Regions from separate parts of the Homo sapiens genome. Here regions 1, 3, 4 and 5 are each linked to region 2. Evidence: fine-mapped expression QTL. A gene starts in region 2. Each other region holds a variant in brackets. All regions are shown on one strand. Distances are between the middles of the regions. Region 1 overlaps HDLBP (high density lipoprotein binding protein). Region 2 holds the start of SEPTIN2 (septin 2). Region 3 overlaps HDLBP (high density lipoprotein binding protein). Region 4 overlaps HDLBP (high density lipoprotein binding protein). Region 5 overlaps SEPTIN2 (septin 2).

The links. PIP is the estimated chance that this variant, and not a neighbour inherited with it, causes the effect. A credible set is the group of variants that fine-mapping cannot tell apart.
Region 1: its variant is the best candidate, but not a certain one, in a credible set for the expression of SEPTIN2 in lung (TOPMed, PIP 0.85).
Region 3: its variant is the best candidate, but not a certain one, in a credible set for the expression of SEPTIN2 in whole blood (TOPMed, PIP 0.61).
Region 4: its variant is the best candidate, but not a certain one, in a credible set for the expression of SEPTIN2 in monocytes (Quach 2016, PIP 0.82).
Region 5: its variant is the best candidate, but not a certain one, in a credible set for the expression of SEPTIN2 in nasal epithelium (TOPMed, PIP 0.50).

Annotation. Positions count from the first base shown.
Region 1 is chr2:241,272,919-241,278,023 of GRCh38, forward strand. All of the region lies in intron 1 of HDLBP (high density lipoprotein binding protein), which reads right to left. HDLBP-AS1 (HDLBP antisense RNA 1) reads left to right here. Exons shown (of 2, transcript NR_168372.1): 1 at 1-766; 2 at 1,085-4,021. Among named protein-coding and RNA genes, the nearest start is that of HDLBP-AS1, 3.3 kb to the left of the region's middle. RefSeq lists a silencer at 1-139. The variant G/A (reference allele first, on the strand shown) is at 2,416.
Region 2 is chr2:241,313,265-241,318,369 of GRCh38, forward strand. It overlaps SEPTIN2 (septin 2), which reads left to right and starts at 2,661. Exons shown (of 13, transcript NM_004404.5): 1 at 2,661-2,718. HDLBP (high density lipoprotein binding protein) reads right to left here and starts at 2,408. Exons shown (of 28, transcript NM_005336.6): 1 at 2,306-2,408. RefSeq lists enhancers at 1,384-1,433, 2,314-2,363, 2,384-2,483, 2,409-3,133, 3,124-3,183 and 1 more and silencers at 1,664-2,043, 2,584-2,933.
Region 3 is chr2:241,284,791-241,289,895 of GRCh38, forward strand. The region is part of intron 1 of HDLBP (high density lipoprotein binding protein); the gene reads right to left. Among named protein-coding and RNA genes, the nearest start is that of HDLBP-AS1, 15 kb to the left of the region's middle. The variant C/T (reference allele first, on the strand shown) is at 1,924.
Region 4 is chr2:241,253,403-241,258,506 of GRCh38, forward strand. HDLBP (high density lipoprotein binding protein) reads right to left here. Exons shown (of 28, transcript NM_005336.6): 6 at 3,198-3,404; 7 at 2,782-2,997; 8 at 1,972-2,178; 9 at 1,649-1,756; 10 at 1-95. Among named protein-coding and RNA genes, the nearest start is that of HDLBP-AS1, 16 kb to the right of the region's middle. The variant C/T (reference allele first, on the strand shown) is at 2,577.
Region 5 is chr2:241,334,806-241,339,910 of GRCh38, forward strand. SEPTIN2 (septin 2) reads left to right here. Exons shown (of 13, transcript NM_004404.5): 4 at 321-407; 5 at 1,170-1,293; 6 at 2,577-2,711; 7 at 2,868-2,985. Among named protein-coding and RNA genes, the nearest start is that of FARP2, 19 kb to the right of the region's middle. The variant A/G (reference allele first, on the strand shown) is at 2,221.

The DNA.
Region 1 (5,105 bases), 40 kb before region 2:
GGGTCCCCGCCGCCCCGGGCCGCCCAGCACCCGGGAGGCCCACCCAACTGCAGGCGTGGTTCTGCATCCTTTTTTCGGGTGGGGAAGGCGGTGCCGAGGAGTTGGGAAATTAATCACCTCCAGAAAGCAGAGGGAGCGCGCCCCGCAAGAACCCGAGTGGAAACAACCGAAGACCAGAAAGGGAGCAGGAAGGACGGCTGCTCTGGAAGCAGATGTCACCAGTACCGCCCACCTCCCCAAAATCAGAAGAAAAACCTCAAAGGATGCCCACCACATCGTAAACGGATGGCCACACTGGCACGAGGTCCTACAGCGCAGTGAGGCTCCCAGGCGGCTCCAGGGCTTTCATTCCCTCATTCCTGCGTGCCTATTCCTTATGTCCCTCACTTTTATAAACTATCCCCACCCGATTCCTTGGCAATCAACTTAATCTCCCCCCCAAAATGTAAAATCCCCTTCCTTTAAAGCGTGTATTACTTATGGCTCCATCTCTACATAGATGTATACACGCAAAAGAACCGGTGTGTGGCCTCTGAGCCCACGGTGGATACGCAGGACTGGGCGGAACGGAATCCCTACTCTCGGGGTCTCCACCCTCCGGGAAGGACTTGTCACTTCTGCATCCATTGTGTTTACTAAGTGATAACTGCCACTGTTTCTTTTAAGGGTATAAAGGGAGTCGAGCAATCTGTAGAGATGTCAGTCTGAACCTCTGGCAAAGTCGCAGGTCAACAGAATCCTGCATAGGGCACAGGATCAACTACAGGTATCTGGGGACAAGACCGTCCCACACAGGGGAAGAGGTAGGGGCACACCCAGCCTTACCCAGGGAATGGGGTCAGGTCCGCACAGCCTGCAGCCAGGCCACGGGTGCTGTTGAGGATGGTGGGAGCTGGGTGGGGGCTGCAAGCAGCAGAAGGCAGGATCAGACGTGTTTTTTTTTTTTTCGTGGAACACTGACACTAAGTGGCAGGGGAGGGGAGGGCAGGGGAGGCCTACTATAGTTCAGTCTAAAGATGACAATGGCTTGCATTATGGTGGGCATAATGGAGGAAATAAATGGCCAGATTTGGTATATATTCAGAAAGAAGCACCAAGAAGTTCCTTATTGACCAGAAGAGGGGTGTAAAAGAAGTTAAGAAAGACACAGGTTCTTGGCCTGAGTGACTGGGAAGAGCTGCCCTCACTGAGGTGGGTAAAATTCAAGGAAGACTGGATGGATAAGGGGGTGTGATGCCCTGACTGGGCAGGTGGGGAAGTGGAGCAGGCAACTGTATGTGCAAGGTCAGGGGAAAAGCCTAGGAGCCAGCAGAAATACCATGCACTTCATGACACCACCTAGGGAGGGGAGCAGAATCACAGAAGGCAGAGAACACCTGCGGCTTGACGCAGAGAAGGAGCCAAGGATATCATCAGCAAAGCCGTGCTCTAAGTCAGCAGCACGGAACTGGGCAGGTGGGCCTCCCTAGATGTGGAAATAGGCATTCCCTTCTGTGTCACTGCTGTGGTTTGTTGGTAACCTTTCCGTGGGGATTAACCAATCAGCAACTAGTGCAAGTGTGTTTTTTGTTGCTGTTTTGTTTTTGAGGGCTCAGCACTGCAGAGGGAGATGGAGAAAGAGTAACGGGTAGGGATTCGGTCCGCTGTCAAGGAACTTCCAATAAAGCTAGGAAGTCAGCACAGGCACAGTACCTAGTACACAGGACACCGTAAAGAGTTAGTTTAAAAAACACTGTTAGCAGAAGAGATTACAAAATCATATGCTAACTTTGTGCTAATAACCGTCCAGAATGCTTCTGTGCTGATGCTCACAACCAGCATTTCCTCCCAGCAGGCTTAGCACACTGAAACTAATAAATAGTTCGTAGAAGCAAATTTTAGAAATTCCATGGCTAGCAATATTCAGACCAAATGAAGTGTGAACGTCTGTCTGTGACATTTGAGTTTTCAGCCCTCAAAGGGACGGGGGAGAAGTTTGGGTCTGCTCAAGGTAGGAGGTGAGAAGAGATACCCTCCTATTCCATAAAGTCATGATCCCCAAAAGGGCTACACTTACCAGAAGATAGGTAGATCAAAAAAAGAAGAAGAAAAGCCCACTAGTGTAGAGGGGACTACAGGATGCCTTCTCTGACTATCCTGAGCTGGCAGACAGAAGCATCTCTTGAGCTGTAGGGACAATGGACTAGTACTCTACAACCAAGCCCATTTGTCCAGGAACCCCTAGCCCAAACTGAGATATTAACAAAACAGAAAGCAATTCCCCCCCACCCCGCCTCAGGAAAGAATAAACCTCATACCAGGCTAAAAAGGATACCCACAGATCAGCACAAATGGTAGAGAGGCTAAAAGCCCAAAGCTCAAAAAGAAGGAAGGATGGATTAGAAGTAGGATTAGACTCAAGAACTTCGGGAGACA[G/A]AACTAAGATTGAGACAATAAAAAAGCATAAGAGACATAAAGGTGACATTTTAGAAAAAAAATCGAGAGATGGAACGAATGAAAGAGCTAAGAACCATGGAATGAGAAACTCTAACATATGTCTATAACTGGAGTTCCAAAACAAAAAGAGAAAAGAAAAAATCCAAAGAACAGAGAAGAAACATTTTTTAAAATAGCTGAGAAAATTCTAAGATTTAATGATACAACATTCTTCCCTCATCCCAAAAAAGACAGAGAAGGTGTCTAGCAGGATAATTTAAACTAATCCAAATCAAAACACACTACAGAGTAACCTCAGAGCACCAAAGACAAGAGCAGGACCTTAAAAGCAACTAGAGAGAAAAGACAGGTTACTCATAAAGAATACTATGAGACCAAAGGCAGACCACTTAAAACAATACATACCAGAGGATAATGGCTATATATAAATTATGGCGAAAGAAATAACTGTCAATTTGGATTTAAGAATTCTTTTTCATTTAAGAATGAGAATAGACATATTCAAAGATAAAGCAACTACTACCAATAGATCCCTGCTGACAGACCTACTAAAGGACATATTTCAGCAAGAAAATGAAAGCCAGAGAGACCAGAAAGAAGGAATACTGATAAACCAGCAACCTAGATAAAGTGAAACAAGTGGTGACCCTATACTAATATCAACAATAAAATTTGAAGGGAATTAAATTATAGATAGGTACGTAAGCAGAATATGCAAGTACAAAATAAAATAAAAGACAGAATTAAAATGCTTAGGCAGCAATAATATATAAGGTGGAAGGGGGATATGAAGTTGCAAGGTTTCAAGATTCTTATTATTTGGGGAGAGGCTAGAGATACTAATTTTAGCCCTTGTTGAGAATGAATGTTAAAAATTTAAAGACAATCTAGGAAAAACAAAGAGTTTTTAACATTCAAACTAAACTCTTACTCAAATGGAAGTTATTGGCAATGTTCTAGATCTTGGATTAGGTGGTAGGTTCAGCGGTATTCATTACGATGTACATTATTACTGGTTACATTATACTGTATTAATAATTGTTAAAGAAAAGAGAGAAAACAAGAAAAAAGAATAGGAGGCAAGAAAAGTAAAAGAAGCAATGAAAAAGCAAGGTAAATAAAACACAAAACTGATGAGAGGAATGAATTCAAACCCATCAGTAATCTAAATACGTGTTAACAGACTAAACTGACCAACTCTAACAGCAGCTATAGGCCATTCAACAGTCCTAAACCATACAGACATATAGGCTGAAATAAAGAGATGGAAGAAGTACTCCGAGCAAATACTAACCATATGAAAGTTGGTTATATTATTTTCAGATAACACAGACTGTAGGATAAAAATCATTATTAAGAACAGAGAAGGTCAAGAACTTAAAAATTCAGTAACTCTGATTACATGTATCTAATAACATAGCTGCAAAACATATAAAGTAAAAACTGAAGGTTACTAGGAGAAATTGATATATCCAAGGTTAAAGGGTGAGACTGACCCAACTCTCTTGGTAACACAGGTTATGGGATTGGAAAATGTATAGAGGATGCAAACACAATTAATAAATCTACTTTATTGAACACATGATTAAAAGTGACACCTTTTTAAAAAACCATAAAACCTGGCCAGGAGCTAAAAAAAAAAAAAAAATTAAACAAATAGTAAAGAATTAAATCATAGTAACATTCTCAGACCACCACTCAATTAGAACTCAACTTAAAAATTTAAAGACTATATAAGTTTTAAAACTTGCTTCTAAGTAACTCATGGAACAAGGAAGAAATCTGAAAACATTTAAAACTAAGCCATTAAGCAATTATATATCCCACCTTGTGGAATGAAACAAGATTGTTGCTTAAAGCCTTGTAACTTTAAGCCATCCTATTAGTGAAGAGGAAAAAAATAAAATAAGCTAATCATCCACTACTGAAACTAGAACAAAAAACACCAGAATAAACAAAAGAAAGGTAGAAGGAAATAAAGATAAGATATTAATGAACTAAAAGACATATACCACAAAGGATAAACAAAACCTACATCCAAATTTTTTAAAAGACAAGTTCAATCTCTGGCAAAAATGATTCCTGAAAAAAGGACAGTATAAGTAGGCAATATTAAGAATTAAAAGGGGGTCAAAAACTACAGCTAAAATGGAGACTTTGAAAAATCATGTAAGAATTCTATTGAGAAGAGTAGTGTCAAAAACTCGAAAACAGATGAAATGGGCAAATTCTAGAAAAATAAGTTACCCAAACTGAGTTAGAAATATAGTTTCAATAACCAACCTTCCCCAATCTTCAAAGAAACAAATATAAAACTTACAACAAGGCCGGGCGAGGTGGCTCACGCCTATAATCCCAGCACTTTGGGAGGCCGAGGCGGGCGGATCACCTGAGGTTGGGAGTTCGAGACCAGCCTGACCAACATGATGAAACCCTATCTCTACTAAAAATGCAAAATTAGTTGGGCGTGGTGGTGCATGCCTGTAATCCCAGCTACTCAGGAGGCCGAGGCAGGAGAATCGCTTGTACCTGGGAGGTGGAGGTTGCCGTGGGCCGAGACCACGCCATTGCACTCCAGTCTGGGAAACAAAAGTGAAACTCCATCTCAAAAAAAACCAAAAAACAACAACAACAAAATAATACAACAAAAAGGCGGGTCTCCAAATGCT
Region 2 (5,105 bases):
AAAGTCTATATCCTCTTTTTTTGTTGGCTTTTTGAGACACAGTCTCACTCTGTCGCCCAGGCTAGAGTGCAGTGCTACAATCTCGGCTCACTGCAACCTCCGCCTCCTGGGTTCAAGCGATTCTCATGCCTCAGCCTCTTGAGCAGCTGGGATTACAGGCGCGCGCCACCATGCCAGGCTAATTTTTGTATTTTTAGTAGAGACAGGGTTTCACCATGTTGGTCAGGCTGGTCTCGAACTCCTGACCTCAAGTGTCCACCCGCCTCGACCTCCCAAAGTGCTGGGATTACAAGCGTGAGCCACTGCACCTGGTCGAAAAGACTATATCCTCTCAACCTTTGTATCTGCAGAACCCTTAACCCTACACAGCAATTTCCAGCAAATATTTTTTTGAATTGAAATGAAGAAGTGAGGTCATGAGGCTGAAGTCAGACAACTGGAAGGCCAAAACAACAAAACCTGGAAAAATACGTATTTACTCAAGAAGAAATTCTCCCACCAGGCCACTGAGAAGTTAGCTTTGCCCACTGGAGAGGACACTGTAACAGGGATTCAAGTAAGCCTAGTGGCGCTGAGGGACGTGATATAGGTCAACTATATCTTTGAGGTGCTCTCCTTACACTCAATGCACTTTTACCCGAATGACGTTAATTTGACTCCTGATAAGATGAGCTAAGTCCCTTCAACAGTGCTTGGCACCAAGCAAAACTAATAGCAGTAACAGGAAAGTTTAATCCTCATGATGAATTATTTAATGGGGTTTCAAACGCTGTCCCTGAGACTTGAGGCAGTAGGCTCCAGCTCCATTTTCCCCAAGTCTAAAACTTGATAGGTTGATGTTTCAGACTCAGAGATTCGGTAATCCAAATGATGGAAATAATTCTTACCCAAACACCTTTTCAACTATTTTTAAATACTGTTGCCAAGCATCCTAATATCATGTGTACTTAATGAATTTAGCCTAGGGATACTTTTACATGTCAAAAAATCAAAATATAAACCTAAGCACTACGTTTCATCCAGTGTTTCAGCATCCCAGATTTGCTTCCCTAAATGAACATTAAGCTTATTATGCAATGTGCCGCTACCAGGAGCCTTAGACAAAACCCTAATTGTGACTTAACCTATCTTAATAGGGTTTTAAGGAAGTTAGCTGCTAAGAAAGTGACTATCCTTAAGCAGACACCAAATAAATGTGAAGTCATTGATTGAGGGCTTAGGGTATAGGTAGCTATGAATCTGAGGACATAAAACGCAAAACTGAGGGGCAAATCGTCATGTTCCTTAAGATTACGACTCATCCACATTCCTTCAGCCGTTTAATTTCACCATAATAGGCACTGTTTAATAAGCAAAGCCCAAGTCGACTTCCTTCGATTTTACATGGCGTCCAAACACCATGTCAAGTCTGACCCTCTCATTTTTTAAGTCGAATGGAGAGGATATGTAGCAGCTAGCCTTGAGCACCTAACCACTTTTCAAAGGAGCTACGCACAAAAATACCCTAGCAACATGCCACGGTGTCAGAAAGGCTCAGGTTCCCAACACCATGCGGGTCAGCCATTAGGAACTCAGGAAGTGTTTCCTCTAAGCGGGGGAAACCTAGGAAGGCTTCCTGAACGAGGGGTATTTGCGCCAAGCCTTGACGTGAGTCTCGAACAGTTGCAGTGCCTCCAGGCCACGCGGGAGGGAGGAAAGGACACCCCGGGCCGGGGCACAACCCGCGGGCCGGAGCCGCCCGCGCCCATCCCGCTCAGGCCGCAGCCAGGCACGGCACCCTCCCGTCCCCGAGCCACGTCGCTGCTCGTGGGCTCGCGGAGCACTCCCCAGGTCTCACCTCGGGCCCCACACCAGAAGGAGAAAGCTAGGGGCCGCGCCAGCTCCGCCCTCCCCCGCGGGGCGGCGGGCCCCAGCCCGGGCACAGGAAGGCCACGTCCCCGGGGAGGGACGCCCGACTCGATGGTCTGCGCAGGGCCCGTCGGCCCCACGTGACGTGCGCGCAGCCAATCCCAGAGAGGCCCCCCGATCATCGAGACGGCGGCGGTGGTGGGCTAGACGAGTTTCGCGCGGCCGCTCGCCGTCCCCCGCCCAGTCGTACTCGGCGCCCCAGCTCGGTGCTGCCGCCATCTTCTTGGAGGACAGGAGGAGAGGCGAAGGCTCCCCCTCCCCGTGATCGCTCCGCACTCCCGCCACCACCTGCCCTCCCGCGACCGCCTCTCTCCTCCTCAGTGGGCACTTGTCTCCTTCTAACAAACGGCCTTCCCCCCACTCCAGTTACCCACCGCAAGGCGAAGATTCTCATTACCTGTTCCACTCTTATAAGCATAAGAAAACCGAGCTCATAAGGTAGGAACTGTGGCGAAACAGGGACAAGCCGCCATCTTGGTAAAGGAGAAGAGGCTACGCTTGACCTCCCCCCCCACCCCCAGCCTCTATATGGCCAACTGCCGTGGGAGGAGCACGGCGCTTGCGCAGAGGCGGACAACGCGGACGACTCTGGGCTTGCGCACTCGGAAGCCGGCCGCATGGGGGAGGGGAAGAAGGCCAGGTCGCACTGAGCCAGGAAGCAGTTGGCAAAGGGGCGGGGTGACGCGGTGACGCAATCCGCCTGCGCGCTGGGCGGGGCGGGGCGGGCTGGGGCGGGCTGTGAGCGGACCGCGAGCGCTGGGCGGGTCCGCGGCGCGGTCGGTCGGCGCCTGTTCTCGGGCTGTTTGGCGGGTGAGTGTCTCGCCGGTGTACCCCGCACAAGTTGTGGGCCGGCCCTCCCGAGGAGCTGCGGGGGACGCGCCGCTCGTCCCATACTCTCGGGCGGTGGTCGGCTGGCTCTGGGGTGCCGGCGGGGCGGTGTGGGGGAGGGGCGGCCGAGCCCAGGCTCTTCGGCACTTATCGTGGGCTCCCCCGTCCCGGGCGGTCCTAGTGCCGGCGACAGTGGCTCCGACACGGGCAGGCCCGGGCGCGGGAGTGGGGATTCCGGTGACCCCTTGTTGACCCTGCGGGAATTCCTCTGCACTGTCGTCGGTGCTGGGCCTCGGGGCGTCGAGTGCGGTCGAGGTCGGGAGGTTTGGTGCTTGGAGGGAGGATACAGGTTTAGGCCCGACAAACACTTAGAGCTTGTGTGGCCATCTTGTCTTTCTAACGGTGCCATTTCCTCCCTGAGGCGTGGAGGACTGGCCAGCCCCCAAACCTCCAAGCCCATCGGCTGGATGCCGTGGATAAGCGAGGGGAGAGCGACTAGGCCCTGTCTGCGGGTACCTTCGGCGAGGAGAGGCGACGAAGGTCTGCACCAGCGAGGCACGGACAGGCAGCAGGGGGTAGGGTATAGGGTTGGAGGCCGCCGAGTTGGCCCGGGGATGAGGAGCAAACCTGTGGCTTCCGTGGTCTCAGTGGAGTCCCAACTGTGACCTGGCCTACTGGCCCAGACAAACCTGGCTTGCTTTTTTACCTTTTCGGTCTAATTCTTGTCAGTGCCACCAGACCTTGTCCTCTCTCCACGGAAACACACGAACCAACTACACTGAACTTCTTGTAGTTCAAACTTCTGCACCTTTGGCCATTGCCCAAACTCTTAAATCTGGCTACTTCCCACCTTAACTGCCTTCTCCTTACCTAGTCTGTGCTTGTGGGATTCCGCCCAAATTAGATTTCCTCCAGACAGGCTTAGGTGTTTACCTGATGTTCCAGATGGTATTTGTCCAGTGGACTATTGGTGCTGTGAGGGCAGGGCACATGTTGTCACCCATACTCATTGCCTCGGTTGGTGTCTAGCACCTAGTAGGTTCTCAAATACTTTTTGAATCACAGTGCCTGCCGATATATTTAATGTTTCAAAATAGTTCTGCCGTCATAAAGAAAAACATCATGGTGTAGGGGTCATGAAAGCTGATTCTTGATACTTCTGATTTGAGCCTCATTGTTTTCAGTGATTTTTGATAGCTCCCATTAATGGGTTCTTTGCACCACCCAGCATCCTAACTCATGATGTGTACTGTTATGTATAATCTTGGCATTGATCTCATTAGCTATAAAGGTTGTCCTGATTTTTTTTCCTCAACTTCCACCTTGATTTCTCTCACCAGTGCCACAGCCAGGAATAAAGAACAAGAGCGTTTTAATTAGATCAGATTTACATTCTGACTGGCTCTTAAACTAGCAAGGTGACCTAGGGAAAGGGGCCAGGGTTTCCCTCTATCATTCATAAATGTAATTCAGGGCCCCTTTTTATCCCCAATACCAGCATACAGAAACTGCTGTAAAAGAAGAAGTTGTGGGTATTTTTTTTTTTTTTTTTGTCTGGAGGAATGGGGACACCAAAACTCATTTGGCAGCAGAGGTGAGGTAAGGCCATTTGTATTGTCTGTTCTGTTAGTAGTCATACATGCCACTTATCCCTGCCCCAGTCCCTGTTAGGAGTGTTATGTGGGTATACTGAACGTGGACCTTCCCCGAATCCAAAGAATCCAGATGCTTTGAATAAGATCATGGACCTTCCGGGTTCTACATCGCCAGATGTTGTTCATCTTCTATCTTTTGTTTTGCGAAAATTGGTTTTTTATGTGTATTGGGGTTATTCTGTGGAAGAAATAAGCTGTGGGTCAAGATTAAAGAACTTTAAACAACTTCTGGCATGTGGAATAAACACGATCTGAAGGAACAAAATTTTCATTTGACTACATTTTTGGTCCAATTTGCACCCAGTGTTTAAGTTAATCACAGTGCTTGGCAGTTTGTGTTGCTGGATCAAGGCTTTCTCACTGAAAACCATGTGCTTCAGAGGTTCATAATTCCTCTTTCACCTTCCATTTCACATTAGTTAATAAATTATGAGAGAAAACATTGTGGATCCAAGTTATGTTTCAGAAAAAAAAAAACAGGAAAAAAAAAAGATGGCAGGAGAAACTTGGTAAAGTCAAAGCAAAGTTGAAATGTCAGTTTAAGACAAATAGTTTCTCCATTTTCCCATATGTGTGCACAGGGTTCAGTGAGGCTGAGGGGTTCTGTGGAGGTGCGGGAGAGGTGCTCTATGGTATTTCTATGTTGCACTGTGTGGGTTTGAAATCAGATACATGTAATAGGTGATAAGGTAAGTGCCTGCTCTTTTCTATCCT
Region 3 (5,105 bases), 28 kb before region 2:
ATCAACATCAAAGCGAGACCTTCCAGCAGCAAAAAGATTAAGACTTGCTGAAGGCTCAATGATCATGAGCATTTTTTAACCAATATTTTATTATTATTTTTTGAGATGGAGTCTCACTCAGTTGCCCAGACTGGAGTGCAGTGGCACAGTCTTGATCTTGGCTTACTGCAACCTCCACCTCCCGGGTTCAAGTGACTCTCCCGCCTCAGCCTCCCAAGTAGCTGGGATTACAGGTGTGCTCCGCCACACCCAGCTAATTTTCGTACTTTTAGTAGAGGCGGGGTTTCACCATGTTGGCCAGGCTGGTCTCGAACTCCTGACCTCAGGTGATCCACCCACCTTGGCCTCCCAATGTGCTGGATTACAGGCCTGAGCCACTGCGCCCAGCCTTAACCATTATTTTAAATTAAAGTATATACCATTGTTTTTCTAAACATGTTACAGCTTTTATATGCACTGGGAAACGTAAAACTCATGTGATGTGCTTTATTGGGATGTCAGGCTTTCTTGTGGTGGTATCACAAACCTGCAGTGTCTCTGCAGTGTGCCTGATGTGCACTGTAGCATTTTTGTAGAGTCAGAAGATTAAACATTTGCATTGGTTCAGTCCGGGACTGGGTAAACAAAGGGTGGCAGAACACAAAGCACTATCACTGACCTCCATAAACGACCTGATGAATGACCAAGTCTCCACCCCCACAGTAAAATATTAATTGATGTCATGAGCAGAGTGCCTTCTAGTGTGCCCTGAACACCGATCCCCACCAGTGATGATGTGTGCTTAGTAAGACTCAGTTTTACTTGCTCTCAAACCTGTTTATGCCAGTTTCACTAGTTAATGTAACTACATTTAGAAATAATTCAAAATAATGAAGGAGTGAAGAGAAATTTATCTATGGATATTAAATTTACCACACTGAAATTTCAAGAAAAACAAGTTGCCTTAAAAAAATTATGGCTGGACATGGTGACTCATGCCTATAATCCTAGCACTTTGGGAGGCCAAGGCAGAAGGATCACTTGAGGCCAAAAGTTTGAGACCAGCCTGGGCAACAAAGTGAGACCTCATTTCTTAAAAAAATAAAAAATAAAAACAATTAGCCTGTGCCTGTAATCCTAGTTACTCAGGAGACTGAGGCAGAAGGATCATTTGAACCCAATTTGAAGCTGCAGTGAGTTACAATCGTGCCACAGCACTCCAGCCTGGGAAAAAGAGCAAGACCTGTTTGTTTAAAAGAAAAAGTCAAATGGAGGAAAACCTTTAAAATCTCAGAGAATCTACACTGATTATGAGTTTCTTAAATTTTTGTTCCACTTAAATGAATGCTGAAAATCCTAGACGACATATTATCAATTTCATTTACATAAGAAGAGAGTATGTGGCCAGGCATGGTGGCTCATGCCTGTAATCCCAGCACTTTGGGAGGTTGAGGTGGGTAGATCGCTTGAGCCCAGGAGTTCAAAACCAACACAGGCAACATAGTCTGAAAGGAAAATAAATCTTGGGGCCCCCAAATCACTAAGTTAAAAGGAAAAGTCTAGCTGGGAACTGCTTAGGGCCAACGTGCTTCCCATTCTCTTCAAAGTCTCCCCTCTGTTCACTGAGATAAATGCGTATCTGACTGCCTCCTTTGGAGAGGCTCATCAGAAACTCCAAAGAATGCAACCATTTGTCTCTTACCTGCCTGTGACTTGGAAGTCCCCTCCCCACTTGGAGTCTTCCTGCCTTTGCTTCGAGCCATCCTGCCTCTCCAGACCGAACCAATGTTCGTCCTGTATATGCTGACTGATGTCTCATGTCTCCCTACAATGTATAAAGCCAGACTGTGCTCTGCCCACCTTGGGCACACGTCATCAGGACCTCCTGAGGCTGGGTCACGGGTGCGCGTCCTCACCCTTGGCAAAGTAAGCTTTCTAAATTAA[C/T]TGAGACTTGTCAGATTTCCTGGGTTTACAATGGTGAAACCCTGTCTCTACCAAAAAATAAAAAATAAAAATAAAAATAAAAATTAGCCAGGCATGGTAGTATGCACCTGTAGTGCCAGTTACTCAGTGTGGAAGCTGAGGTGGGAGGATCACCTGAGCCCCAGGGGTTGAGCAGTGAGCCATGATGGCACCACTGCACTCCAGCCTGGACAACACAGCAAGACCCTGTTTCCAAAAAAAAAAAAAAAGAAAACATGTAGAATCCAGCCAGTCCCATTTCAAATAGGTCTTCACCCTGTATCAAATGACTGGTGATTAAATAAACCTCTGTGCCTCAAAACAGGTCAGTTAAGGGGGCTTTAACCATACACCCAGTGTCAGTGAACAAGAAGAGGCAGTTTGTTGTTGTTGTTTTGAGACAGAGTCTCACTCTACTGCCCAGGCTGGAGTGCAGTGGCGTGATCTTGGCTCACCGAAACCTCCGCCTCCTGGGTTCAAGCGATTCTCTTGCCTCAGCCTCCCGAGTAGCTGGGACTACAGGCGTGCGCCACCACACCTGGCTGATTTTTGTATTCTTAGTAGACACAGGGTTTCACATTGTTGGCCAGGCTGGTCTCAAACTTCTGACACCGTGATCCACCCGCCTGTCTCCCAAAGTGCTGGAATTACAGGCATAAGCCACCGCGCCCGGCCTATTTCTTTCTTTCTTTTTTTTTTTTTTTTCTGAGACAGGGTCTTACTCTGTTGCCCAGGCTGGAGTGCAGCAGCACAATCGCAGCTCACTGCAACCTCTGCCTCCCAGGTTCAAGCGATTCTCCCACCTCAGCCTCCCAAGTAGCTGGACTACAGGTGTGCGCCACTATGCCTGGCTAATTTTTGTATATTTTTTTGTAGAGACAGGATTTTACCACATTGGCCAGGTTGGTGTTGAACTCCTGGCCTCAGTGATCTGCCTGCCTTGGCCTCCCAAAGTGCTGGGATTACAGGTGTGAGCCACTGCGCCTGGCCTGCAGCTATGTGTTACGTTGATATGTAACCAGTCGTGTTAAAAGATATACATGTTTGTACATGCATAAGACCTCTCTAGAAGGAAACTCAAGTCATTGAGAATAGCAAAAGGACAGGAAGTCCAGAGCCCAGTCCTCAACAAGCATCAACATGAACAGCTGGGTAAAAGATGGACTTGAAAAGACAATTCTGCTGTGAAGCTGTAGAATGTGAAGACGGGAGGGAAGACCATGAAAAATGGCACATATTCCTACACCACATACCCCCAAAGTGTGTTTTAATAGGAAACTATGGATGGACATATGCTAAGTGTTTGTGAGAGTTATCAGCAGAAGGGGAAAGCTCTGTATTATATGAGGCTCTTTACTTTTCAACAAAAATACCTCCACCTGGAGAGGGAAAAGAGGACACTTAAGTATCACCAGGTACTACAAATCAGTGAAAAACAGAGTCACAAAATTTATTTTCTCTGCTGTGCTATTCTCATTACAATTGCCACGTTATCTGCAAGACGTCTGAATTAAAATTTTTTTTTGTTAATTTCCTTTTGAGGAAGTGGTGATGACTTTACATGAACCTATTCAAGCCTTGGAAACTGAGAACAAGATACATAAGAGCTGTCTTTACCATGTGGAGAGCATTTAAAGGGGGACTGAGTTCTGTCCAGTTGCCTGCACAACTAAGAACAATTCTGAAGACACATTTCATCTCAACATGAAGAAAAGGATCACTAAGAGTGAGCATGCTTTCCTGAATTAGCACCTAGGAAAAAAAATGGGCAGAGCTTATTCCCACTGTGAAGTGTACTCTCCACTGGGTGATCATTTAACTTACATGACTCCTTAGGGTCTCCTCCATCTTAAGTTTCTTTGACTCACTGAAGAAACAAACCACTGCTTCTAGGTGGAAATGCATCCGTATGACCCATGGGTTTACTGATGTCTCTAACTGCCATGGTAACACTAGTCTGCCACCCTGAGCCGCTGAAAGGTGTTTCATGGCAGCTCCTGCACACACACATACTCCTCACCAGGGCTTGAAGCCCACGCAGGCCCCCACCCCAACTGTAATGGTGTTCCTGGGAAGGGGATGGGAACAGAATGGCTGTAGGAAGGGCCATTCCCCTTTAGTCCTGCAATTTAAAAATCCCTTCCATCTCCTCACTATAAATCTCATTAAACTACAAGAAACAAAATAATTTGAAGTTTGACCCAGGGCAACAATTTACACTTGATGATTTTTTCCTTCCTACAATTTACATAGGAAAGTTCTATGAGCTAGAATTAGCTTAGCTCATGTTTATAAAGAACTCTGTTATGGATACAAAGCTAGCTAACGCCATGGGTGGAAAATACTTAAGAATCTGAAAGATTAATCTTGGGCTCAGTCCTATCCAAATAGAAACAATACTTTTCTACAAACAAGAAAACACACATCAGGAAAACCCAAGTCTTCAGGTTTTCTCCTCTCAAGGGTGGAGAGCATGTGGCACTCCAATGTGCGATCTGCTGCTGACACTGCTTGGCACATCACCCTCTTCACTTGGCCTGCTTCCTCCTTTGTCTCATGAGAAGGTGGGACTGCATCATCTCTCCAGGTACTCTCTTCCTATCAGTCTACTCTTCAGAGATTAAGCCTCACTTTTGGATATAAAGACTCCCTAGAAACGCTTACTTATATAACTGTCTCCACAAAGAGCTAATTCAACATTAAACTGCACGAATACAAGCACAACGTCCCCACCAAAGCACAGGTATGTTCCTCTATGCAAAGTTAGACAATGGAGATACCGGACTCAGATCAGAACATTACCATGTAAGAGAAAAACTGACATACATCCAGGGAGCAGGAACTTAGATGTCTCATCTATAAAGAGAGAAAACTGGGCAGAACAAGAAAACACTATTTCCTACTATTAGAAAACAAGTATCACACCAGGAAGATAAAGACAGCTTCTCTGCAACTCCAAAGGCATCCAAGGACAGGAAGGGGTCAGGATGGCAGAGAAGGAAGATCAGTAATGAGGGGAAGTAGGATCAGAATAGCAGAATGGCTGGCACCAAAGGTAAGGAGTGCCCTCTAAAGGAAACCTCAAGAAGACATTAGGCATCAACGTGGGGTGAGTATGGCAGTGGGAAACTCAAGTATTAGATAAAAAGGAAACTCCAGCTACT
Region 4 (5,104 bases), 60 kb before region 2:
ACCATGCCTTCTATCTGTTCCTGGGCCACATTGACATCCTCTGTAGGGCCCTCCAGGGTGATCTTGTCTTCGCCCTCTGTGAACTCGATGTGAACCTACCACACCAAAACCAAAGAGATAGCTAAAACAGAATGGCACAGCTGCAGCCCCTGAGCTCCCAGTGGGAGCTCTCTTCGGAGCGGCTTCTGATCCCAAACTGCTTCACATAGATGTGAGGGAGGGAGGGACATATCCACAGCCATCAAACAAAGTTGAAAGGGAGGGTTAGGGAGCCATAGTCAGGAAACTAAATACTGTGGCCGAATAATCCTGCCTCTCACTAAGGACACCGTTTGCCCCACAGAAGCCACTAACATAAAGCATGCGACATGCGACATGCTCCTCCACCATCTGAACTTTTACAAGGCCTGGTCCTCTTGAGTTGCATAAAGAATGAGACAGAGCACGGATGGAATTTTAAAACTCGTATAGCTGTACCAAGGTGGTAAAGTAACTTGCTTGACATAGACAAGGCTGCCAGAGTTCCTGGTTTATTATCCTCCAGGTAAGGAGTTAAGGAAGGCAGACTGGTCCTTATATGAAGCTATACAAAGTAAAAGGGGCTGGGCACAGTGACTCACACCCATAACCTCAATATTTTGGGAGGCTGAGGTAGGAGGACTACTTGATCCCACGAGTTCGAGATCAACCTGGGCAACTAGTAAGACTCTGCCTCCACGAAAACTAGCCTGGGGCGCCTGTAGTGCCAGCTACTTGGGAAGCTGAGACGAGCGGATCACTTGACCCATGAGTTCAAGGCTGCAGTGAGCTATGACTGCGCTACTGCACCCCAGCCTGGGTGACAGAGTGAGGCTTTGTCACTAAAAAAAAGGAATAAAATAAAAAAAATTTAATTTTTAAAAAGGACTGTAACATTAATTGGAAACAAAGTTTAAATAAAACAGGAATTAAATATGATGGTTGGATTCTCTGGTATTTCTTTTTTGTTCATGTTTCCTGGGGGCTACAATCTCCTTTGGTAAACTGAGAACGCTTTAAATTCACACTTAATACAATTTGTATACAAGTTCTGCTCTTCAAAGTATTTTTTTTTTTTTTTTGAGACAGAGTCTCGCTCTGTCGCCAAGGCTGGAATGCAGTGGTGCCATCTCGGCTCACTGCAAGCTCCACCTCCCGGGTTCACGCCATTCTCCTGCCTCAGCCTCCCAAGCAGCTGGGACCACAGGTGCCCGCCACCAAGCCCGGCTAATTTTTTGTATTTTTAGTAGAGTCGGGGTTTCACCATGTTAGCCAGGATGGTCTCGATCTCCTGACCTCATGAGCCACCGCACCCGGCCCGCCAAAGTATCATGAAGTTATTTCACCATAATTACTAAATGACATGTTTCTTAAGATACTTATGAAACCTAAGAACATACAATCCTCTCTGGTTAAAGGCCAGAAGGATGGTACAGACATCTACAGACATTTATTCTGCTGTTCTTTAAGCTAACACGGAAGTTGACCATGTCAAACAGGCCAGTTAATTCAGAAAAATACACCAGTTTTCAAGGGCATCCACAGTACAAAGGTCAACAAAGCAATATCAGAAACAGAAAGACAGAAAACAAGACAAATTCAATACAACAGGTGAAAAACGTGTCCTTACCTTTGGCATCTGCTGAGTGATTTTGGCCAGGTTCTGCCCTTTCTTGCCAATGATGAAACGGTGAAGCCAGGAAGGGGCGGCGACAGAGGAGACGGTGAAGCTATTGGCCTAAGAAAATGGGAGAACAGCCATGGGTTTGCAGAGCTCAAGGTCGTGTCACAGTGAAAGCCAGGCTGCTCACCTGGGGCTCAGAGGCACGCTCTCCCCAAACCTGGGCACCTGCACTGTGTCCAGGCCCCAGGATTTACAAATCGAGAGCTCATCCATGAAGGCCCCGCGGACTCCACTCAAAGGAGACACACTTCATGCTCGGAGGCAGTTACCTTGGCATAGACTTCAGTCAACGCCTGACCTAACTTTTCAGGTTCGCCTCGAAGTATTACAGTCTCAGAGATGCTGTCTGAGGGTGGGATCTCAACGGAAACTCCAGTTCTCTCAAGGATCTCCTGCAATGAATTGCCCTTGGGCCCAATGACATACTTGTGTTGGGATTTCTTCACTTCCACTGCAATGGTTGTAGTCTTCTTTTTCTAAATAAGAGCACCATAAGGGGCAGTCAAAGGGAAAGGTGTGGGAAGCGGGCAGGTGGGCATGGCCACTGCTGCAGAAAGCAAGCCAAAGCGGCCCAGACTATAGATGCTGATCCCAAGAAGTGAACAACAAGTGATCAGGACTAGCCAATCCCCAGAAACTTCACTGTTCAAGGACTGGATTTTTCCCCTCAGTCTAGTCACCCGCCGGCTGATAACTTCGTCCTTGAACACTGCAAAACACCCAATCCTTTCCCTCAATTAAGGAACACGTTTCAGACCTCAAAGTTCACTAAGCTGAGCTAACAGCTTAATCTAAGACGTGAACAAGTCCGGGATGTGCATCTGACCCGGGGCAGCCCAGCTGGCAGCCTGTCAGCACAGTCAGAGGCCCAGGA[C/T]GGCAAGGACAACTGCCAGGCAGATGCTCAACAGCAAGGGGGGGCGGGCACCGATCTCACCCGGGTCACTCAAGTGTAGAGACAATAAGCATCTTCATCAAGGACAAAAAGATAAGGGGCAGAACCAGGCCTTAACTGAATCTCCAGACCCAAATCCTCATTTCTATTCCTGCCCATGGGGATTTGCCTCCTCTAAATCGTGTACCTTCTCCTCATAAATCTTCTTGATGCGAGCCACAGCCTGAGCCAACTGTTCCTTCTCTCCAGTGAAGACAATCTCTGTCCGGTTCACGCTGGGTGGGGGGATGTTGATGCGCGTGCCTGTCTCCTGCATGATCTCGCCAACCAGTCTATTATACGGCCCAGCGATGAAGGGGTGGAATGCCTTTTCTACTTCTAGCCTCTCCACAGCACGTTTGTCCTGGAAAGGAAGGGATGATCTGATGAGAACAGGCCTTTGAAAACAAACTGGGGACAGACAGGGCTTTTTAGAGTTGGAGTCAAGCCCTCCACCCCCACCACATTATGCCTTGAAGTCCACACTGGACACGGCAACCCATGAGGGAGTGAGGTCTGCACAAGCAGGTAGGCAGGGGCACGAGGCACTCACACAGGCCTCACCTGCTCGGCAGAGATGAGTAAGACTTCATGGCGAGCTTTCTCGATGCCCTCTTTGGTGCCAGTGATCTTGATCTGATTGCTGGGGTCATCTGGGCGTGGGATCTGGATTTTGGTTGCAGTTTTTAGCTCCAAGTCTTGCAGTTTCTCTCCATTTTTGCCAATAACAAAGCGATGGTGTTCTTTGGGAATGGCAACAGTTGCTGAGGCCTATAGCAAGAAGAGAATAAAAGAAAACAAGAATATTTGTAGGTTCTGAAGGAGCATATTTTTCCAAGACATTCTGGCAGAAACACCATCTTTGCTTATTCCTGCCCAGCAGCACCAACTCATCCATTAAAACAGCATGAGCTTAAACATCACATGCTTGGGGAAGGTTGCCCTGACTCCCAGGTTAGGGTAAGTTCGAGTGTATCTGCACCACTACTTAACATCCACTGGAATATACACCCACAAAGGGAGACAAGAGTTAACATCCACAAAAGCTGGACAGGAAGAAGCATGACTGCATATCCAGAAACCCTGAAAAAACTACTGGGTGAAATTCTATTTATAGCAAAGAGAAAAGACTGAAATCAAGAAGTTAACAACATTAACTTCCACAAACAACAACTACTTAGAAGATGTAATGAAAGAGATGCGTTTCTTTTTTTTTGAGACGGAGTCTCGCTCTGACGTCAGGCTGGAGTGCAGTGGTGCCATCTTGGCTCACTGTAACCTCTGCCTCCTGGGTTCAAGGGATTCTCCTGCCTCAGCCTCTCGATTAGCTGGGACTACAGGCGTGCGCCACCATGCCCAGCTAATTTTTATATTTTTAGTAGAGGCAGGGTTTCACCATGTTGGCCCCGATGGTCTCGAATTCCTGACCTTGTGATCCGCCCACCTCAGCCTCCCAAAGTGCTGGGATTGCAGGTGTGAGCCACTGCGCCTGGCCAAAAGATGTGTTTCTAATAGAAAAAAGGAAAAAAGAAAAAAGGACAAGAAAATAGCAAGACACAAGCCCAACACAAGGTGGAGTATGTGCATTCGAAATTAGAAAACACTCCTTAAAATAGCTAACAGAAGGTTTAAGTAGATGGCGATCATCCCAATTAACTTTAAAATATTAATACAATTTCAAACAGTTGATTATAAAGGTTGTAACACAGAACCAACAAAAATGAACAAGAAAACCCTGAAAAAGAATAGTGCAGGGTGGAGGTGTTAACAGTGGTCCTAGACATTAAACATGAAACCATTATCATTAACACAGGAAATACCAGTATACGGAAAGACCTGCTGGTCTGAACTGAAAACCCAGAAACAGAGCTAAGTTAATATAAACATTTAGGACATGATAAAAGCAGCCACTCAAGTTCACTAGAGCAAAACGTCTTTTCAAGACAGTGATGGCACGCCTGTAATCCCAGCACTCCGGGAAGCCGAGATGAGAGGATTGTTTGAGCCCAGGAGTCCAAGATCAGCCTGGGCAACATGGTGAGACCTGACTTCTACAAAAATTTTAAAAATAAGCTGGCCAAGGCCAGGCGCAGTGGCTCACGCCTGTAATCCCAGCACTTTGGGAGGCCGAGGTGGGTGGATCACGAGGTCACCAAAAATACAAAAATTAGCATGGTGGCAGGCGCCTGTAATCCCAGCTACTCGGGAGGCTGAGGCAGGCGAATGGCGTGAACCCGGGAGGCGGAGCTTGCAGTGAGCCGAGATCGCGCCACTGCACTCCAGCCTGGGCGACAGAGCAAGACTCCGTCTCAAAAAAAAAAAAAAAAAAAAAAAAAAAATTAGCTGGCCATGGTGACGTGTGCCTGTGGTCCCAGCTACTGGGGTGGCTGAGGCAGGAGAACTGCCTGAGCCTAGGAGGTTGAGGCTCCGGTGAGCCGTGATCATGCCATGGCACTTCAGCTTATGTGGCA
Region 5 (5,105 bases), 22 kb after region 2:
TAAAAACCAACCTCTAAAGTACATTCCTCACATTTGTGAACAGTTATGTTTCTAATTATATGATGTTCAAGTTCTGTAGTCTCATAGACCTGGATTCAAATCTTGGCCCTGCTCTGGATAGTACTCTGACCTTGGGCAAATTAGAGTTTCTTTGAGTACCCTCAAAGATCATACTGCAAACATAGTAGTACTGTAGGTACTAAACACAGAATGATGTTTGTGAGGTACTTAGCCCAGTACCAGGCCTTATGTAAACACTTAACCGATTGAATGGTGTCATATGAATAAGGTCATGACAAGGTTTTTCTTTTTATTTAAAGGTGAATCAGGTCTAGGAAAATCGACTCTCATAAACAGCCTATTCCTAACTGATCTGTACCCAGAAAGAGTCATACCTGGAGCAGCAGGTAAAAACATTCTTATGTTACTGTAAGTGTAATTCTACATGAAAGATGCTGAAGACTGCCTAATTAATATTTTATGTCTTAGCTGTGTGTTTTGTTTGTTCTTGTTCAGCTTTGAACACAAGGAAAACACTTTTATGGGGTAGGTGTGCTGCACCGAGGTCCTTGGATTTGGGTTGTAGACTTTCTTTGACACGTATCCATGGATCCATCCTCTCTTGAGTTTGTCTGTAAAATGTAATAAGTAGTTTCTGCCTATATTAAATATTTGATGGAAGGATTAAGTGAGAATGTTTTACATCAAAAATGCTGTGTAACTAGAAGATTACTAGGATAGATGTTCGAATTCATCTACTGTCAGAAAGTTCCAGCACAGGACACCAGCATCCACAAATGACTGTTGAATGAAATAGGCACACATAGTGAGAGCCTAAGACTTGGGCTGCTGCAAGAATATGTAGCCCTTTCAGAATATTTTTGAATTCAGTTTTTAAATGAATTCGTAAATTGCTTTCTTTTTCCCAGGAACAGAAATTATAATTTTTAACATTTGTGTTTTTAACCTTCCCCAGTAGCACAATAATCTTAGCTTTAACCTTCCCCTTTCTGACTTCTCTGGGATCTTTTTTTCTTAATCCCCATGGTATCTTTGGAGAACCTACCTCTGTAGAGAGGCAGTAGACTCTGAAGTCACCTGTCGTAAGAACGTGAGCTTTCCTCTTCACATGCTGCTTATATTCCCTATTAAGTTTGTTTCTTTTCTAGAAAAAATTGAAAGAACTGTCCAGATTGAGGCTTCAACTGTTGAAATTGAAGAGCGAGGGGTCAAGCTACGCCTGACAGTGGTAGATACCCCTGGCTATGGTGACGCTATCAACTGCAGAGATTGGTATGCTCCCCCATGCCCAGGGATCTGCATTTGTTTACTTAATATACTTCATAAATTTATAGATAGTGTTAATGAGTGATTATTAAGTTTGGGATTGCTGTATATAATAAAACACCTAGACAATTTAAAGCGTGTTAAATGTTGACTTTTTAAATAAGGAATTTTATAGAGAGTAATTTTTTTCTGGTACTCTACTGTAATTTGAGATCGCAAAGCCAGTCATCCATAGACTGCTAGTATAAATGAAACACCTGGATTTGAGCCGTGGTTGGTGACCGAGATACTGTAGTACATCCTTTCTATGTGGAAGGAAGTGAAACCTGTTAGAGAGTGGGTTGAGTCGTAGTGTCTGTAAATGACTGCTCATTGGCATCATTTTCACAAATAAGGAAATGAAGAAGTAGAAGATAGAGCAGTCTGTCACCTGTACCGTGCAAAGAATGCCACTTTTGTTGTACAAACTCCCTCCTGGTTCTATTCCTGTCAACATAAAGCATCAGGTTTCCACCACTAGATGAAAAGGGGAAGGTTCTGTTATCTTTCTCCTACATTTAGGAATTTCTCCCTTCTTACATGTGAAAGTGCTGTACTGTTTCCCAGCTCAGTTAAATGCTGTTTCCCAGCTCAGATAAACCTGTTCTTGACCCATGTTCTCTACCACCCTGTTCCTCTGCCCCTTTTCACAGTCACGTTCCTGAAAAGAATTGGCAGCCCTGGCTGGGTGCGATGGCTCATGCCTGTAATCCCAGCACTTTGGGAGGCTGAGGTGGGCTGATCACAAGGTCAGGAGTTCGAGACCAGCCTGGCCAACATGGTGAAACCCTGTCTCTACTAAAAATACAAAAATTAGCCGGGCGTGGTGGCGTGTGCCTATAATCCCAGCTACTTGGGAGGCTGAGGCAGGAGAATCGCTTGAACCCTGGAAGC[A/G]GAGGTTGCAGTGAGCCGAGATCACGCCACTGCACTCCAGCCTGGGCAACAGTGCAAGACTCAGTCTCAAAAAAAAAAAGAACGAATTGGCAGCCCTGTCTACACTGGCCCTCTCTCAGGTGCATCATAACCTATTCCATTCAGGCTTTTGACTCTCAGCACTTAGGGGCAGTTATGCTTGGCATAGTTTCCAAAAACTTCCATTTGCCAAATCTAAAAGTCAGTCTTCTGTTCTCATCTTGAAAATGAATTATTAAATTATGTATATTTGGGCGGAGGCACTTGTTTTCCCTTTGAAGTCAGGGACCCCCTGTTTTATACCCTATGATTATTGTTAATGTTTCTGTTTCTCTCAGTTTTAAGACAATTATCTCCTATATTGATGAGCAATTTGAGAGGTACCTGCATGACGAGAGCGGCTTGAACAGGCGGCACATCATTGATAATAGGGTGCATTGTTGCTTTTACTTTATTTCACCTTTTGGACATGGGTAAGTAATTGTTTATCGTGGAGAAATGCTTTACTACATGGGTTTGTAAGTTTTACCCAAACTGTGTATTTTAATATAAGAATTAAGATAATTTGAGAGAGAAGAGTTTTGTATGTATTTTTTTTAAATAAGTGACAATTCTAAAATTAATTTTAGACTTAAGCCCTTAGATGTGGCGTTTATGAAGGCAATACACAACAAGGTGAATATTGTGCCTGTCATTGCAAAAGCTGACACTCTCACCCTGAAGGAACGGGAGCGGCTGAAGAAAAGGGTGAGTGAGGCTGGCGTCCTGCCCTCCCTCTGGGTGCGACTCGGGGGCATGGGGATGAAGAAAGGAGTGTGTTCCCACGCTCAGTCTGCTCAGGTGTCGGGAGGCAGGGCGGGAGAATTTTTCCTGCATTTTAGTGGTGGTTTTCAAGGAGAACCTGATGGTTACAAATTTTAATTTTTGCCTTCATGAAGGTATCAAATTTCTATTCTTTAAATTCTCCTTATATTTAAAATGCCCTCGATGAGTAGCAGTTGGTTACACACAAGTACCTTCCATGGGAGTTAAATGACTCAAATATAGAAATGTGATCTCTCCATGAAGTTTGTTATTTTACCTAAATTCTTTACTGCAAATGACCCATACAAGGATGTATCTAAGTAGACTGGTTCTCTGTTCTGTTTGGAAACATAGCAGTTGTCAGCCAGCGAAGCGCCTCTCACCCGCCAGCAGCTCCTGTGGTGTCCCAGTTTTAGTGCCTCTTCCGTGTATGTCTGTAAAGCCTCTTTATTGATTCTCTGCTATATATTTTTAAATTGCTTACTTTGTTCTGATTATATGCTCCTTAAGAAAGTCCAAATAGTTTATATATGCTAAACTCTAAAAATACAAATCCCTAACTGAACATACCGGTACGTGCATAAAAATACAAATCCCTAAATGAACATACCGATCTGTGCGTGTAATCACAGTTGCTGGGGCAGGGTAGGGGGATACAGCAGGGGGTTCAGGCAGGAGGATCACTTGAGCCCAGAAGTTGGAGGCCAACCTCAGCAACATAGCAATACGCTGTCTCTAAAAAAATATATATATATATTTTATATATATAATATATAATTAATAAATATATATAATATATATTACATATATATTATATCTATATTATTTATATTACATATGTAATATATATTATATTTATATTATTTATATAATATATTATATATATTATATTATTTATATGTAATATATTTATATTGTTTATATATATTATATTTATATTATTTATATATAATACATATTATATTTATATTATTTATATATAATATATATAATAAATATATAATATATATAAAAATATATATATTTAATATATCTATAATATATATTATATATATTATATATAATATATATAATTGTACATATATTTATTATATATATTATATATATAATATATATTATAAATATAATATATAAATATATTTATAAATATATATAAATATTATATTTATACATTATATTTATATACATATTATATATACATTTTTATATATTATATATATATAAATATAATATACATATATTTTTTAAAATAAAAGAGTTTCTAGGCCGAGTGTGGTGGCTCACGCCTGTAATCCCTGCACTTTGGAAGGCTGAGGCAGGCACATCACCAGAGGTCAGGAGGTCGAGACCAGCCTGGCCAACATGGCAAAACTCCGTCTCTAAAAAATTACAAAAGTTAGCCGGGCGTGGTGGCGGGCATCTGTAGTCCCAGCCACTCAGGAGGCTGAAGCAAAAGAATCGCTTCAACCCAGGAGGCAGAGGTTGTTTGCAGTCCAGCCTGGGTGACAGAGCAAGACTCCGTCTCAAGAAAAAAAAAAAAGAATTTCTGTAATTACCCACAGAAAGAACAACTGTTAAGTATATATCCTTCTAGAACATAGCTTATGTTTTTGGTTTTGCAGAATGAAATCACATAGTAATACTATTCTGCCATTTGATTTTTCTATTTAAAAATATTTGGAAGCATCCTCATATATATACTGTATCCTAATTCTTCCTGGATGCACAGCATTCCACCATATGAATATACTCTAACTTGTCCAGTTTCCTGCTGATGAATATTTGGCTTACTTTTTGTTTTACTCTGGCCCCTTTTCTTCTTTGACCAAATTTACTGTTTCTTTGCCCCTTGCTCGCTGCTTTTGCTAGTGATACCCTCTGCCTGGAACAGTCTTCCCTCAGATACCTGTGTGGGGAACTCCCTCACTGAGCCCAACGCTGCACACAAGATTTCACATCTCCATCCCCTGCTCTGCTGGTAGCACTCCCCCCACACTGCATAAAGTATTTCTCTAGCGTGTTTTTTGGCTTCTCCTGACCCCTGACCCCAGGTCCTGAGATCA